2 separate regions of the Homo sapiens genome follow, and region 2 is linked to region 1. A link means that fine-mapping ties the variant in region 1 to the expression of a gene that starts in the linked region. Tissue or cell type: blood mononuclear cells. Region 1 holds a variant in brackets; the other region holds the start of a gene. All regions are shown on one strand. Distances are from middle to middle. Region 1 overlaps NCK2 (NCK adaptor protein 2). Region 2 holds the start of NCK2 (NCK adaptor protein 2).

Region 1 (8,327 bases):
ATCGGGAGGAGGGGGAGATTGGCAGAGAAGCGTGCATTAAATCGTTCACAGTCATACCATGTTTTAAATAACAATTGTCTATATCAGTTTAGAATTCTAAAAAGTTGAATGCAACCAGAATACATTTTTAGAAACCCAAACGAGCAGATAAGAGATCCGCTGCCCTGACTAGTCACCCTCTGTCAAAACACAACAGAATTAACACAGATAGCTTTTGTTTAAAGTACAGAGTATTGGATTACAGTGGCTTGTTTGTAACTGATTTAAGCTATATAAGAATGAAGAAAACGAATGAAGGAGAACAAACAAAAAAAATTATGCATTCTATGGATAAAGCATATTGAAAGAAAACAAAAAAATAGAAAACTCTAGGAGAAGGCACTTAGAGATGAGGAAGTTCTGCACTGGCCAACAGAAGTGTCTTATTTAACCTACATATAAGTAATATACAGTATAATAATTGTATTAATATAGTACAACTATAGATATGTTAAATATCAAAAATATATATTGCTTGTATTACTTGTTCAAGAGGAGATGGAGATAACAGTAGTTTCAGAATCCCTATTAATGAGAAAAGTTCATTTGGATAGAGTATGACTATAAATATACAAACCAGAGGAAAAAGGAAACCTAAGCATGGAAAAAAGACTGAAACATCATCATCTAAATGGCGTTGATAGAAATGGAGAAAAGAATTTCCCTCTCCTTTTAACCTACTTTTAAGCAATGGCTTTAACTCCATGAAAATGCATTTTATGGGTGTAGAAGTTTCAAGGGCACAAAAATCCTTTAAGCAAAAGACAGCACTAGTACCTAGGTTTTCTAACTTTTGTCTCCAATTCACATAGCTGATGAAAAAACTTATCTAGAATTGGCCTCCTTCCTCCCCAACTCTCACTTCTAATCCCCTACACTTTACGGAAGTGAAAGGAAAGTCAAATTGAGAAGCTTTTTCAAAGCTAGCACCCTCACTTTTGCATCCAAAATGGATCCAAGCAGATCCAACCTTGGAAGGAGACACATCCCAACTCTGATTTGTCCTTGGCTGGTGGCACGTGGAGCCCAGGAGGGCAGGAAGCCCAGGTCTACTCACTTCTGCCAATGGGCCAGGGATCTACAAGTCGGGGGCGGTGGGGGGCGGTATACGCATGTGTTTCTAACAGAATGAGATCATCTTATAACATGGATGTAGCCCAAAATTAAAGCAAAACAAGTTATGGCCGTAATTTTCCCATCTACCCATTCCCTCACTGTCATCAAGAAAAGATGGGCCTTGTTTCCAGCAAGAAGGAACCTGGCTAGTGGAGATGCTCCTATGGGGAAGGTGCAGTGGTCACCAGTGCACCCTGACACCCCATGGGGTGGAGTCTCCACCGCAGGGAGAGACTGAGGTAGCTTCACTGCCTGAGTCAGCTCAGGCAGCCCTAACAAAAGACCACAGGCTGGGGGCTTCAACAGCAGGTATTCATTTCTCGCAGCTCTGGAGGCTGCAAGTCCAGGATCCAAGTGCCAGCAGAGTCTGATGGGGGCCACTTTCTGGCTTGCCGATGGCTGCCTTCTCGCTATGTCCTCAGGTGGCAGAGAGAGCTCTCTGCTGTCTCTTTTCAGAAGGGCAGGAATCCCATTATGGGGGCCCTACTCTCAACCCTATTTCCTCAGAGGGCTCATCTCCAAATATAGTCACACTGGGGGTTAGAACTTCACCACCTGAATTTCTGGGGGACATAAAATTTCAGTCCATTGCACTTGCAGGTGGAAGACTCAGCCCAAGCCTACAGATATGACCATGTCAGAGCTGAGACTGGGTCCTGCCCCTTCCACGGCGCTGAGCTGAGCTTCCTTCAGTGTGAGGACAACCAACCCAGAAAAGAGAAATCCAGCTGAGTGCTCAGGGCTGAGGGTCAAAGGTGAGGGCAGTGGGAGTAACAGCAGCTGCCCAGTGCCACCACGCCTGCAGCGGGCAGAGCAAGACAGCAGAGGAGTCGCAGCAAAGGGCAGAAGAGAGGAAAGCAGGGCACATGCTCACCCCATTGAGAGCCACCAAGGCCAGGGAGCACCTGTGCGGCACCACGCCAGCTGAAGTTTCGCAGGTCCCCTGCTTCGAGTCTGGACGGTGCTGTTATCACCATGCTTTAGAAAGGAGGGTGCCTGAGCAGCAGAGGTAAGGGAGTCAGCCTAAGGCTAGGGTGGGAGCAGGGCTGGTAGAAGGCACTGGCCCAAGAGAGGCAGAGGGGAACAAACCCAGGAGGAAGCAATGCGTGGGGGAGGCAGAAGGGAGGAGAGAGTAGAAGCTGGACCTGAAGGAGGCAGAGAAATAAGAGACAGCGATGGAGACAGGAAGCCCTGCCCGGGGACCCAGGAGAGTCAGGCCAGGCCACAGCCACCACAGGGACACAGTGCTTATCAGGCCTCACCCTGAGCCAGCTATGTGGAGTTTAATTTCACTCTCATAACCGCGCGAGGCCGGCATTACCTCCTTTTCCTAAAGGTGTGGATGAGTCTGAGCTAAAGGAACCGACTCAGCATCTCATGCTTAGAGAGGAGCAGACACAAGATCCCAGCAGCGGCCAGGGCCACCTCCAAGGCTGGCAGCCAGGTCTCCAAAGGCAGAGACCTTTCCAGACAGGCCCAAGACAACACTCCCAGCCTTCCCGAACTCCCATCCTGTCCCCAGCCTGCCCACTGGCCGTTCCCAGGGCTAATGGAACAAGTCCGTGCTCAGAGCCAGGCCTGGCACATAGCACATGCTCAGCTAATGATCACTACGGTTATTACATAGATTCAAAATAATCATTTGTTATCAGAGTCATTTGTACACATAATTTTTTCATCCCTGGTGCTGGGATTGTTTGTAATTTATTGTTCAGTCCACAACGCTAATCATGCTGCCCTAGACACAACAGATGATCAATAAAAGGCTGGCTGGATGAATGGATTAATTAACTGATAGAGAGATGTGCAGTGGAAGGGACGTGAGAATAAGGCAAATAAGGCAGAAGGTAAATGAGAAAATTGACAGATGGGCAAAGAGTGGACACACACACGTTTACGAAAACACAAAAAACAGGCAAAAGGTATTAAGTCCAGGGAACCAGTCGCCCAAGTTAAATAATTTGGGCCTCCCTGGACCATCATCTAGACCAAAAGTATTGCACTGCTACTAGATATCGTATTTATTTTCTTCAGCACATCAAATGAGAACAGCTAAATAAATAGACTCAGCACTTACTAGGAGTCCTGCGCCCAACCTCCTGCTGACCCTCAGAATGACATTTTGGGTGTGATCAGGTTCTCCCAAGCTTCGGCTTATAAAGCACAAAGGCAAACTTAACCTCGGCAGGGCTGCCCCAGACTCCCTGGCTGGGCATACCTGCAAACACCTGAGCGGATGTTGAGGTGGCTCAGAGCCAATCCTGTGGCTTCCACTCTATTGGTGCTATTGGAGATTGGGCCTTTCCCTTTACTGTTCACAGCGGGAAACCTGTCAGTGGGACCAGGTTACAAGGAGGACTGGGCAGGCTGCATTAGATTTTGTATTGGCGGTCTTTTGGTCGTGTCACTTTGGACTCTATCTTTCTGAATAGCAGGAATTACACTCACATGTCTCCCTGTAGGACAACACAACAATTTTTTCCTGTGTCCACAGACATCTCAGGAAGCTTCCCACTAGCCTCCTTGGCCAGGACGGGGGAACCGTCCTCTGGTTCTTTTTACACTTGGACACACACAGCATGGCCACCTCGGCTCCCAGTGACACCGTAAAGAACCAACTGCCGCTCACGCCTGTAATCCCAACACTTTGGGAGGCCGAGATGGGCGGATCATGAGGTCAGGAGATGGAGACCATCCTGGCTAACACAGTGAAATCC[T/C]GTCTCTACTAAAAATACAAAAAATTAGCCAGGTGTGGTGGCCGGCGCCTGTAGTCCCATGTGCTCAGGAGGCTGAGGCAGGAGAATGGCGTGAACCCAGGAGGTGGAGCTTGCAGTGAGCTGAGATCGCGCCACTGCACTCCAGCCTGGGCGACAGAGCGAGACTCCGTCTCAAAACAAACAAAAACAAAAACAAAACAAAAACGAAAAAACACACAAAAAAACACATAAAAAACAACTACCTGCTTCAGAAAGCATTTCAAACTGGGAGGCTGCCTAAGTGCATGCACGTGTTCCTAACTTTACTCGTGTATCCTATTCTGTCAGTATCTGAGGACACACTCTTTGTGCATATTCTAAGAATGTTGAAATGGGAAGTGTGGGAAACACGGGCCTGGAACAGTGGCTGCTGAGGAACGGATGGACCTCAACAGACACACTGCTCCTCCAGGGGCAAGTTTGATGGTGTTATAGTTTTCACTAGACTAAATGAGAATCTTTTATGGCAAGCATTTGTAACTGCCTGCCTAACCACAGACATGCTCAATTTAAATGTGATTATTATAGAAATGATAAAAATGCATTTATGCTCACCTACATTGTAAAGACCTGAATACATCTCTACATTGTACCCTCCACAAGCGAGGCTCCACATAGTGGAAACACAAATGTATCTTGAATTTAACATGCCCCTTCACCTCAATATAACCAGCATCAATACTTACTAGCCTGAAAGGCTGTTTTAAACAGCTTGACATGTAAGCAAATTAAACTCTCCCCTCCCGATTCACCCCAAGCCCATATGACCACCACAAGGAGTCCGATCAGCAGGTGGGAAAACTGCTCCCCAGAAATGCCACTGGGGTGAGAAAAGGGATGGCAACTTCCTATTAGAAATAACAGCCGGGCGTGGTGTCTCATGCCTGTAGTCCCAGCATTTTGGGAGGCTGAGGCGGGCGGATTACTTGAGCCCAAGAGGTAGAGGCTGCAGTGAACAGAGATGACGCCACTGCACGCCAGCCTGGGTGACAGAGGGAGAGCCTCTCTCAAAAAAGAAAAGCTCCCAGTGACGCTTTCCTGAATGAAAATGAATTTCATCACTGCCAATGCCACGCATGGTGTTGAGGCCAACCAGGTGCCACAGAAGGGACCTGCCGTCCAGCTGAAGCAGGTCCTGCTGCTTACTCAGTGACCTGCAAAGGCAATGGCACTCTGTCTTCTGCAGAGAAAGGGTGTTTCATTTTCTCGTGCAAATTCCAAATATATCCACATTTCAGATTGCTACAAGGCAGTACTATAAAGGGAGAAGCGAAACAACTCCCACTTTCTGGGAAGAAATGCCCTTGTTTCCAGCTGCAAAACCCTCTCTGTGGGGAAGCACACTGAAGTCGCTCAGGAACAGGCCACCCCTCTTGGAAAGAGTGGAGGTCATCATTTTTCACCTATTAGCGAAAAAAAAACATAATCTGAATACATTTATGTAGGGCTATTACCCAGAATATTTACAGGGTTTCTTCGTGCTAAGGTATTTCATGATGCTCAGAGGAACAAGGTGGAAAAAACACACCATTATTCTCCGCGAACGGCTGCCTTCCTAGTAACTGCACCCACGGTGGCAAATACTGCACATTAACCTGTGCCTTGGTGGTGTACGAAGCTTCCCACAAGCAGGTGAAGATGAAGAGCTAAGTCTGGCTCAGACAGGCAACGCTGCATCGAGCTGTTTTTACTCTAAATAAAAACCATGTTCCACGCGGGCCTTCACGGTGCTACCCCAGAACACGGGCACAATTTAATGCCTCACTCCGAGGAAGGAAGCTCAGGGAAGTCTCCTCTAGTGACTCTTAGAGGCTCCCCAAAGGAGGAGGGCGATGGGGGCCCACCCAAGCTCTAGCGAGGCTACAAACAGCACGCAGAACATTCCACTGCCATTACTTTCCATCTTCAAAAGATTACATATCATCTTAAAGAAAATTCAAGGTTAAATTGGCTTCCTCAGCTGCTGCGGCAGAAAGCAAAGCAGTGCTGCAGAGAAAGTTAAACCACCTCCCAGGGCTCTGGCCTTCTGCAACTCTTATTCTAAGGCAGCTTCCCCATCTATCTTGTTCCACGGTTATATCCCAGGTACCCAAAAAGGCTCTGGCCTTAAGGCTTACCTGTTGCAAATGATAGTCGACCAACTCAGCTGCAAATGGGGCTTGTTATGACACCGGAAATAAAGGTGAGGCTGCCACCCTCTTCGCCAAGCCGGTGAGCACAAGTGTCTGGAGTAACTGCCCCCTACGCCTCTCCAGTTGGGAGCGTTGGGGACAGTAAGTGAGTACTAGTCACTGGAAGCCAGCTCTGAGAGGCAGGTGCTGTGGCTGCCAGAGCTGAGCACAAGCCTAACAGCCTTTGCAACCTCCTCTTCTCCCCGACATCCACTTCGCCTCTACAGGCAGCTGCAGCCCATTTTGCCAAATGATTTCAACGGGCCGGATCCCCCACTCTCAGAAACGATCAGGTTCTATCATTTGACGTTGCATGAGGAGAGCTAAATTAGCCATGAAAACAAAACTGCTCTAACAAAATAAAAAGTACTAAAACCACATACTACCTATGCATGGAGTTCAAGAGTGAGAGGATGAAAACATAAGACACTTCACATAGCCAGCATTCCTCAAGTGAGATTTTGTGTAGAATTTAAAGTAACTTTAATACTTAAGAAAAGAGCGTTCATTATATAGACTGTTTCTTCTCAAGTCCTCAAATGGCCATCAACCCAACTCTGACACCTGCTGTGGAGAGAGTGGAACTAGTTTTAGGGAGATTTTTGGTGGCAGAGAGAGAAGGCAGATCACTAATCCCCATGGGCTGGTGGAAGCCATCAGCAGGATGTGCCTGATAATCCATCCATCTACACCAGAAGGAAGGGCCACCCTGAGTCCCTGGGCCCGGCCACCCCGCCTGCCTACAGCCAGACCAGGAGGGTTGTCCCCTTACTCCTATAAAGAGAGGGGAAAGAGATGATCGGTGATAGGCTCCCACTCTCGCGGAAGCCCAAAAGCAACTTCCCGCAGTCATAGTAAGAACAGAGTAAGGAAGGAATGGACCTCAAACCTGGGAAACCAGGTCTTTGTCTAGGAGCTCCTCCCTCAGCTTGAGGGACCTGATGGGCCGCAGGTTTTCAGGTAATTTGGACTCACTTGGACATTCTCAACTTCATAGTCAAGAAACTGACAGCTGTATGTACCTATTTCAGTTAAAAGCATTTACGGCAAGAAATAAAGAGGGAAGAATACATATGCACGTATACCAGTTCATTCAGCAAATGCCTAATGAGCATCACTACGTGGCCAGAGTCCTTATCACAGACTCATTCCAACTGGAGAAACAGACATGTCTACAAATTTTCGTACTGCGGAGAGGCGACAGCTCTGTCACAGACAACATAAATTGCAGGATTATCACTTGCCAAGCCACAGGCTCTGTACTTTTCATGCATTGCTCTTTATTATAAACCTAACAACTACCTTACAAGACTGCTATTTTCTCCATTTTTCAGATAATAAAACTGATGCACAAAGACCTCTGCCAGCCCAAAGTCACACTATGGCAATGGCAGGTCATGATTCATGCCAGCAAACCAGATCTTAACTGCTAGGCTGTACTGCCTTCCAGGAATGAGTGCAGAAATATTACGAAACAGACGTACATGGACTAGAAGGCCAAGGAGGGTCACTAGTTCTGGCTGGGGGAATCCTGAAGGCTTCAAAAGGGAGATTGCATTTAGTCAAGTCTTGCAGTGTGGGAAGGGATGAGTGGTGGAGGTGGAAGCGGAGATGGGAGAAGGCTGCCCCTGTGTCAGCAACAGGACCTGCAAAGGCACAGAGGTGTAAAAAGTGCACGGCTCCCTTGGGAATACCTAGAGTAATCATGTTCATAAAATTCACAAGGGCTGAATGGTAGAAGGTGGAGCAAAGATCAGATTTTAAAGGTGCTTTGACAACACAAAGGCACCTCTAGGAAATGGGAAGCTAATAGTTTATAAGAAGAGAAGTAAAACAATTAGATCTGTATCTTTGAAAGCCAACCCCGGAATAGGTGGGTGGGAGGGAGAAAAATCTGAAAGCAAGAAGACAGGAAGACCACGACCAGGTGAGAGACAAAATCTAGATTCGGGCAATGAGAAAAGAGAGGGTCACTTAGTCAAGGCTGGGTGACTGTGGTAGTCCATTTGGCTGGCTGTAACAAAATACCACAGAATGGTGGCTTATAAACAAAGGAAGTTATTTCCCACAGTTGTGGAAGCTGGAAGTCCAAGATCAAAGTACCAGGAAATTCAGTGTCTGGTAAGGGCCTCCTTCCTGGTTCCTACACGGCGGCTTCTTGCTGTGTCCTCACATGCTGAAGGGGTGAGGGGGCCCTCTGGGGTGTCTTCCGTAAGGAAATTAATCCCATTTGCAAGCGCTCCCC
Region 2 (8,327 bases), 41 kb after region 1:
CTGAACCCAGAAGCTCGAGGATGCAGTGAGCTGTGATCATGCTACTGTACTCCAGCCTGGGTGACAGGGTGAAACCCTGCCTTAAAAAAAGAAAAAAAACAACTGCAGGAAAGAATGTCACAGATGACAAATCAGGGACACAAAGAAAGTGCTGTGGAAGTTTAAAGATGATGCCATCCCCTCTAGTTTGGAGTTGATAAGATGTGGGGAAGAAAAGAAGTAAGAGACGACCCTTGGGATGAGTAAGAACTCAGGACACGGAGGAGACTGAGCCAAGGAGTTGAGAGGGAACACAGAGGCTGGTCAGGGACAGTGACACCGTATGACATCACTGTGACACTGCTACCTCAATCAAAATAACTTTCATTTCCACAGTTTCAAGGACTAAGATTCTTGAGGTAGGAATGTATGTGCCAGTACACATGTGGATGTGTGTCACTGGGCAGAGGTAATACTTGCTAACGTTCATTTACCTTTAGAAATAAACATACTTTGGGAAATGTTCAAAGGAAAATGCAGGAAAAGAAAAGAGTCTAATTTTTTAATTGTGCTACTAAATGGCCTAAAGAAATGCAAAACTGTTTTTGCTTTAGCTGCACACTTTTGATAGCCCGTTAAAAGGCCGTCACGACCTTCTTCTGAGTTGCCTTAACTCAGGCATGGAACAAGATACACGAAATCACATTTTAGCTTAGGCCCTTTGAAAACGTGCCGTGAAGTATTTCCATCACTCATTTTAGGAAACAGAAACCATTTGGAAGTGCCACTCGCAAACCCTCTGGATGGGAAAACTAATTTCCTAAGCATCTGAAGTGAGCTGTAGGGAGTTTCCAGTTCATTTGTGAAAAAAGTTAGCTTACTTGTTTTTCCAAACATCACTCATCATCCTCCCCTGTAGTTCCAGCAAGCAATTCTGAGCTCTTCAGTCTTTAAGCCTCATTTTTAATGTCAGAGAATGATTTCCGCAAGCCCTGTCTCCCCCAGTGCACACGGCAAGCCAGTTTGAGCAGTTAGAAAAATGGGTGTCCCATAGAGCCTCGCAGCCTGGTCTATCCAGGGCAAACTAAGCTAGTGCAACTGATCAAGTAAAGGACTCCAGTGCATTCTGCGCCATTCCGGGAGTCTTAGGGTATTTTAAAAGGTTATCCAGTCTGTGCACATGCAAGGAAGATTTCCGGTGTATTTAATATGGATGGTAGTGCATTTCTCAAATATAGTACTGTGTACATAAGATCTGCTGTTTGTTGGAAAAGCTAAATAACCGAAAATGTAAATGACAAAGCCTGGGAATATGGCAGGGTCAAACAGAGCAAGGATGAAGAAGATTTAAGTATGCAGCGTGTCCTAAGCAAAACACAAAGCATGAAAACTGAGCACAGCCACCTGCAAGGCACCTTCAGCAAGCCCGACGGTTAACAGGGTCAGTTTCTCCACAAGTGGACAGAGGGGGTTATGCAGCAGCCAACTCTTCCTGATGGCAATTTGTGACCCAATTTCATCCAGTGTTTCATGACCAACCCCCCTGAATGTTTATGAAGCAGGAAAGAAGCTCAGAATCCAGGCGAGGCCTCCGGGACAGGAAGTGGGCCAGGCACCTCCACAGCTTCCTATGCCTAAAGTTCTCCATTTCAGCCTCAAGTAGCCGCCAGAAGACCACTAAGATTCCGCCACCTTCTCCAATCAAAACTACATCTAACCAACCTCCAGGGCAGAATATACTGAGGTAGGATTTTCCCTCGTGTTCACTTCTTCACAAGCAGGTTAACACTTGCTTCTCAGGAAACCCCTGTTCCAAACGTCAAAAAACCTCCATGTCTAGCCCAATCTCCAGGTGAAGTCAATTTCTTCTCCACGTGTCCGATGACTGCCATTCTCTTTACGTAAAACTCGCAAGGCTTGAATCCTGTTACTAATTCACCTGCTTATCTATGAAGCTTGCAAAGTGAATTGAGGGAGTGTTCACACGCACAGTTCCGTTTTGGTAAGTTAAAGCGGCCCAGGTTAATTTCATTTTCAGTCACTTTTGAGACTTGATAACTACATCTAAAACAGAGGCATGAAAAACACCCTGAATCACTTTCATTCCTACACAAAATCCCTTCCGAGAAGCGGGGACTGCGCCTGGGCCAGGAAGGGACTCCCCTACCTGTAGGTCCCAGCAAGCCACGCCCACCGGCCTCTCAGGGTTGTTTCTTTCTGGGTCGAGGGACGGAGCTGGCCCTTGCGATATTTTAGGCCCCCTCCTGCCCACACTGGGGCCTGCTCATCCCATTATGCAGATGCAAACTTGGCAGAAGCAGCCTTAAACCTGTTGGCAAAATAAACAAAGCCAAATAAAGAGGAATCTGCCAACCTGAATTGTGTGAAGTGGCCAAGGCCGACTCCACGCACGCTCGGCTTTGTCCCTGAAGCTGTTACAATACTAGTTTAAGTCAGGTGCCTGGGGTCCACCAGCCAATGACCCCTAGCATCCACCGCAGACCTTCACAGAGATCCCCATTGTCTACAAATTAAAGCGTTTTGCAAATTAAACCCCTCCACACAATGCCAAGCTAACTGTGCTCATAAGGCAGTTACCCTCCATGCCTTAAAACTCACATATCAAATTTTTCCAAAAGCACTCGGTGATTAAATCGCCCTGAAAAAAACCGAGAGAGCCGAGCGATTGTGAGAAACTTTGGTTCATTCAGGTGGCTGTTAGAGTCCTGTAAATCTGGGGCAGGGCGCAGAGCCTGAAGCCGGGCACAAAAGCTCCCTTCGCCGAAGCGAGGACCTCCTTTATGCAATGTGACAGCAGCTTTGTGCGCGAACATAAATAGTTGTAATAAACACGGTTAAGTTCTCCCGGCCGATCGCGGCCTCCCCCGTCCCTGCGCCGGGGCCCTGCGATCCGCGGCTATTCTTCCCCGGCACACGCGCCCTGGCGACCCTGGCCACCGCACGGTCCCACGCTAGCCCCGAGCTCCGTGCCGGCCGCCCGCCTGCAGGCCAGGCGCAGCCTGCGCACCCGGGGGTCTCCAGTCCCCGGGCCCCGCAGCCGGGCCCCCTGCCCTGATCCTCGCCCGCGCCCTTGGCTGGCGTCCCCGCCCCTGGGCCGGCCCCCGATGGTGGGGGTTAGGGATGGGAAGGCGGGCAGGAAGGTGCAGAGCCGGGAGGTGCCCGGCAGTCCGCGGTCGGGGGCGCCCAGGCCGCGGCAGGGCCGAGAGCACCGGAGGGGCGCGGAGGGGACCCGCTCTCCTGGCCCCTTCCCGGGCGCACCCCGGCCCGCGAGCCCCGCCGCGCTCCCAACTCCGCCCAACGGCCCCAAGTTTGTGGCCCCCGCCCCACGCCCGCCTAGCCGCGCTTACCTCGCCGTGGGCCGCCCGCGGAGCCGGAGGGCAGCGGCGCGGGTCCCGGGGCGGTGGCCGCGCTGCGCCCGCCCAGGCGCCGCTCTTTGTCTGCGCCGCTCCCTCCTCCCGCCGCCGGGCGGACGCTGCCGGCCCGGGCGGACCCTGCCGGCCCGGGCGCCGCGAGCCTCCCGGCCGCCAAGCCCTCCCCTCCGCCCGCCGCCCGCTCGGCCGCGCGGCTCCGGCCTGACGATCCCCGCGGCAGCGGCGGCGGCGGCGGCGGCGGCGGCGGCGACCCTCCCCCGGCGCGCAGCGCCCGCCTCCTCCGCGCTCTTCCTCCTCCTCCCGCGCTCCTCCCCGGCCGCGCCGTGACGCCGCCCAGGGGCCGGCCCAGGCCCGGGCGCGCGGGGCGGGGACCCGAGACCCACCTGGGGCGCCCCCCGTCGTCGCCAGGCTCCGCGCCCGGGTCCCGGTACGGGCGCCGGGATAGCGCGGGGCTGCGGGACGCTCCGCTCTGGAGGCGCAGCACGGGCCGGGCGCCGGGGGCAGGAAAGGGTCCCCACGCCCGAAATTGCGTGCGGGCGGTGGGGGGCAGGGTAGGTGGGTGGGGAGGAGAGTGAAAACACAGACGGCAACTTCCAGCCTGGGATGACTGCCGGGTGGGCTTTGCGTCCTCTTTTTTGTTTGTTCGTTGTTCTTATCACGAAGCTCTAGTTGCTGGGCAGCCGCCCCCCTCCCGGAAGCATTCCCACGGCACTCAGCTAAGCAGGCCTGTTGTCCATCAGAAAAGTGACTTAAATAAAAATGTCACTTCCTCCCTGTAATTGCTTGTGGGCATTTTTATTTATTTGCTTTGCATCTATTTACTTTCCCAACCAGACACATTTTTAGTCCATCATCCCTGTCCGAGGCACTTCCTAAAAGAAGAAGAAACTCGACCTCTGTTGCCTCCCAGGCATCCAGGCCAGCCCCAGCCTGTGGAATCCTGGTTGCACACCCGTGGGGGCAGAACCCGAAGAGGAGCTGCCCGAATGTGCCCCTAGAAGGAGTGTCGCTAATGATGGGACCGTTCAGCTCACCCAGCCTCGAGTTGTGGCTAGCCTATAAACAAACTTGGAAGATGAAAACCCAAGAGCAAGGGGAAAGACACAAGTTTCCCTTTCACAGACACATGCATCCGGATGTCTTTTCTCCTCCCCATATGGTTTCCCAAAGGAAATCCTAATATTCAAATGATTCTGATTTCCTGGCAGGATAGCCTGCATCCATGTTAATGAGATTCTTTCTTAGGCTCCTGGTCTCTGCTTACTATTAAGGCAATAATAATTTACCCAAGGTTACAAGGCTGTATTATTTGATTCACTCATCTCCTGCTTCCTTCCAGAAGGGAAGTACCCAAGGATAGGTAACTAGAGTCAGCGTAGCTTTGAAGTCAGACAGGTGAGTGTTTGACTGTTGACTTCCTGAACTGTGTAACGTTGCACAGGTGGTCCTCAGCCTTTCTAAAATCTGTCATATGGGGAGATAATATTTACTTACCTCCTATGTGAAGTACCCTGGCAGTAGGTAGCCCTCAATAGCTCAGTAAGTGGAAGGAAGCACAGTACACTGAGCAGGAATCAGGTACAAGCTCAGGGAATCAGAACAGCCTCATTTTTCCTTGTTTTGACCTTGTGAAAGAAGCTACTTCAGTTCATCCTTTTGTGCAAGTTTTGTGTTACTAATATCTAGCTTTACAATAAGAAAAGAAGAATTCTAGTCATCAGTCTGCCCAATTTTAGATTAATTTACTCAAAATAAGTATAGCAATATTGACCCAGTTTGTAGCTTGTTTGCTTTGTAAACTTTCACTGAATCGTGGTTCTTGCATGCCTCTTCTTTCTCTGATTCTTTAGAAGTCACCGATGTCATTCTCTATCTAAATCCAGTGGCCCTTTATCAATCTTTATCCTGTGGAGTTTTCTGAAATATGTGGCATTTCTGCTATTTCCTGAAACACCATCATCTTTTCATTCATCAAACACAGCCAGTTCTGATTCTCTTACCTTTCTGACCTGCCCATCTGCCTCCTCTAGAGAGGTTGTTGTCTTCCCACCCTGTAAAAGTGATATCCCCAAGGCAGATGGTGGCCCTTTGTTTTTATTCTGATACGCACCTTTTTTTTTTAAAGAGAGAGTTGATTGTTTTTTGTACACTCCCTGTCTAAACCTTCATTGATTAACCCCCAGACCTGTAGCCTTAGAGAGCTCCCCTGCTAATCTGCAGAGCTCCCCAGCTAATCTGCACCCCCTAAACATGGCGCAGCATCTCTTCTAGGTCACCATGTTCAAAATGAAACTCATCTGCTCCCCAGACCAGCTCCTCCTCCCATGGTTTCAGGCCTGGCCAAGAGTCTACCAGGCACCTCAGCTCCTGGGAGAAATCTCATTGTTATCTTGGCTTTTCCTTCCCTCTCTCCGAGTTCTCCCCAAGAAAAGCTGGGAGAGCGCTGAATGACACCAAGACCCCTTGCAGACTACCCCCATGGTTCTGAGTCCTGGTGATTCTTAAACATCTTTTCCACTGCACCTTTCTTTCCATTTCCATCACTGGCATCCTAACTTATACATCATTCTAGCAATAGTTATAATGTACCTTGATTGAATTCTTGACATATATCATCTCTAATCCACACACAATAGTATTATACCCATTTTACAGATGAAATCACTTGAACAGTGGATCAAAGAACTGGGGTCAGAGCATGTACCTGACTCCAAAACTCTTGTTCAATTCCCCACAACTACTGCCTTCCAACTGGTCTCCCATTACTTCCTTCTTAAATCCCTCAGACTCACACTGGACATCAATGTCATCCTAACCTTCCTGTAAATTGTTTCCATTTGTCCCTGGTTGTGCTCAAGAACTTCTCATGGCTCCCCATTGCCCACCACAGTCTCCTCAAAAGTTATCTGATGACTGAAGACTGAGCATTTTCCCCCAGAGAGGCTGGGGTATTTAGCCCTTAGAGGCCTGTGTTCGTTTCCTGGGGCTGCCTTAACAAATGACCCCAAACTAGGTGACAAAACAGAGGTTATTTTCTCAAAGTTCTGGAGTTCAGAAGTCTGATATCAAGACACCAGCCTCTCTCCAAAGTCTGTAGAGAACAATCCTTCCCTGCCTCTTCCAGCTTCTGGTGGCTGCAGACATTCCTTGGCTTGTGGCAGTGTCACTCCCACCTCTGCCTCTCTGTCTTCACACAACCTGGTTCCCTGTGTCCTTTCCCTTCTCTCTTTTTGTAAAGACAAGTATCATTGAATTTAGGGCTCACTCTAATCCAGCATGATGTCATCTCGACATCCTTATCTTACAACATCTGCAAAGACCTTTTTTCCAAATAAGGTCGCGTTCTCGGCTTCCAGGTGAACATATCTTTTGGGGCCAACATCCAACCCACTGCAAGGCTTAACATGGGGGAGACATTTCTTTGAAGCTTATGTTTTATCTAAAAATATATAGGTTTTTCTGCATTCTACTCCATTAATGTGTCCACATCTGTTTTACTGTCTTCAATCACAAAGTATTGAAAGCATAAAAAACATGGAGTGGAAGGAGGTGCAGTAAACTTTTGCCTAAAATCACATCAGCATTACATCTTATGATCTCTCTTCCAAAGGCCTCTCCAACTTAGCCCTGCCATACAATCTCCTTTTTACCTCTGTCCAGTATAAGCTGTTTGCTTCAGTCACTCAGCTCTGCCCACAGTGCCACATTGAGTCACACTAGTTTCAGCCTTCTGTGGTGTGAAGGCAGCTAGGAATTCCCTGTCCCCGTCCTTCTCTTTCAGAGCTCCATTCAAGGCCTTCTCTAACCCCTCCTTAGACTCACGGAAAACACAAAGCAAGGTTGAGGGTGTTGTCCAAGTCATACGTCAGAGGCTCAAAGCCTACCTTGGAGCCTGTGCCTTGGGGTCATTTCACCTCTCTGAGCCTCAGATATTAATAGTGCTCTTGCAAAGCGTTGTGAGAATTAAAGGAGATAATATAAACATGTCTCAACTGTGTGTTCAGCACATGGTAAACACTCATGTCTCCTTTCTCATGACCTTCTCTTGTAACCCTCAATTCAATTAAGCATATCTGGTGTAGTTCTATTTGTAAGGCATTATAAGATCCACTTCAGGATTCATTCATTTGGTGCAGACACCAAAGAACACCTGGATGTGCAAAGAGCAGATATAAGATTGCATTATTCAGAGAGGTTATAACGCAAACTGGAGTGGAGTGAAAGGATGGGAAAATAGTTTAGGAGAAATGGAGAGGAAAGACCCAAAAGGAAGGATGAAACCAGCATACAAATAACTATAATATAAAACTAAATATGAACAGTACCAAAGAAAATATGTCTAGAGAATCAGGAGAAGCTTTAGGCTTTATGAAAGGTGGTGGCATTGGCAATGACCTTGAGAGATTACATGGTGGGAAGCTGCCTTTAATTTGGCTGCCCCCCTCTCTAGCCCCTTCCTGGTTTTAGAGAAGCCTGTCTGAACCCTGGAGGGAGGCAGAGTAGGCACCTTGGTCCCTCCATTCCCAGAAGCCCTGTGAGAGTGAACAGCCTGGGATTGGCCAATGGAACCCTCCCACTCAAGACTGTGAAACTGGAGAGGGTGAAAAGGACAAGAGAGGGTGAGATTCAATTTGCCATGGCTGAAATAGTCCCAGCACATCCCTCCCACAGGAATTAGCCAGCTCCATTCTCACCCCTTCTGCTCTCCAGTTCCCCTGTGAGCTACTTGATATTCTTCTAGTAAATTCTCCTATTCTGCTTAAGGTACCCAGAGGCACTTCCTCTTTTTGGAACCCAAACCCCTGAATAATGCAAATGGTAGGATTTTGAAAGGTGGAGATAGACAGGGAGAAAATTCCCAGCGGCAGGAGTTCAGAACTCTGAGGCAGACAGGGGGACGTGGGAGGACCCTGTAGGGACAGAGAATGGCCCACTTGCCTAAATGGAGCAGAGGCT

The links.
Region 2: it holds the start of NCK2, and the variant in region 1 is fine-mapped to the expression of NCK2 in blood mononuclear cells (TOPMed, PIP 0.96).

Annotation. Positions count from the first base shown.
Region 1 is chr2:105,780,715-105,789,041 of GRCh38, reverse strand. All of the region lies in intron 1 of NCK2 (NCK adaptor protein 2), which reads right to left. Among named protein-coding and RNA genes, the nearest start is that of NCK2, 40 kb to the right of the region's middle. RefSeq lists enhancers at 2,153-2,202, 1,785-2,356, 5,642-6,142. The variant T/C (reference allele first, on the strand shown) is at 3,873.
Region 2 is chr2:105,740,159-105,748,485 of GRCh38, reverse strand. NCK2 (NCK adaptor protein 2) reads right to left here and starts at 3,574. Exons shown (of 5, transcript NM_003581.5): 1 at 3,348-3,574. RefSeq lists enhancers at 2,264-2,313, 2,414-2,483 and silencers at 2,854-3,243, 3,354-3,413, 3,604-3,923.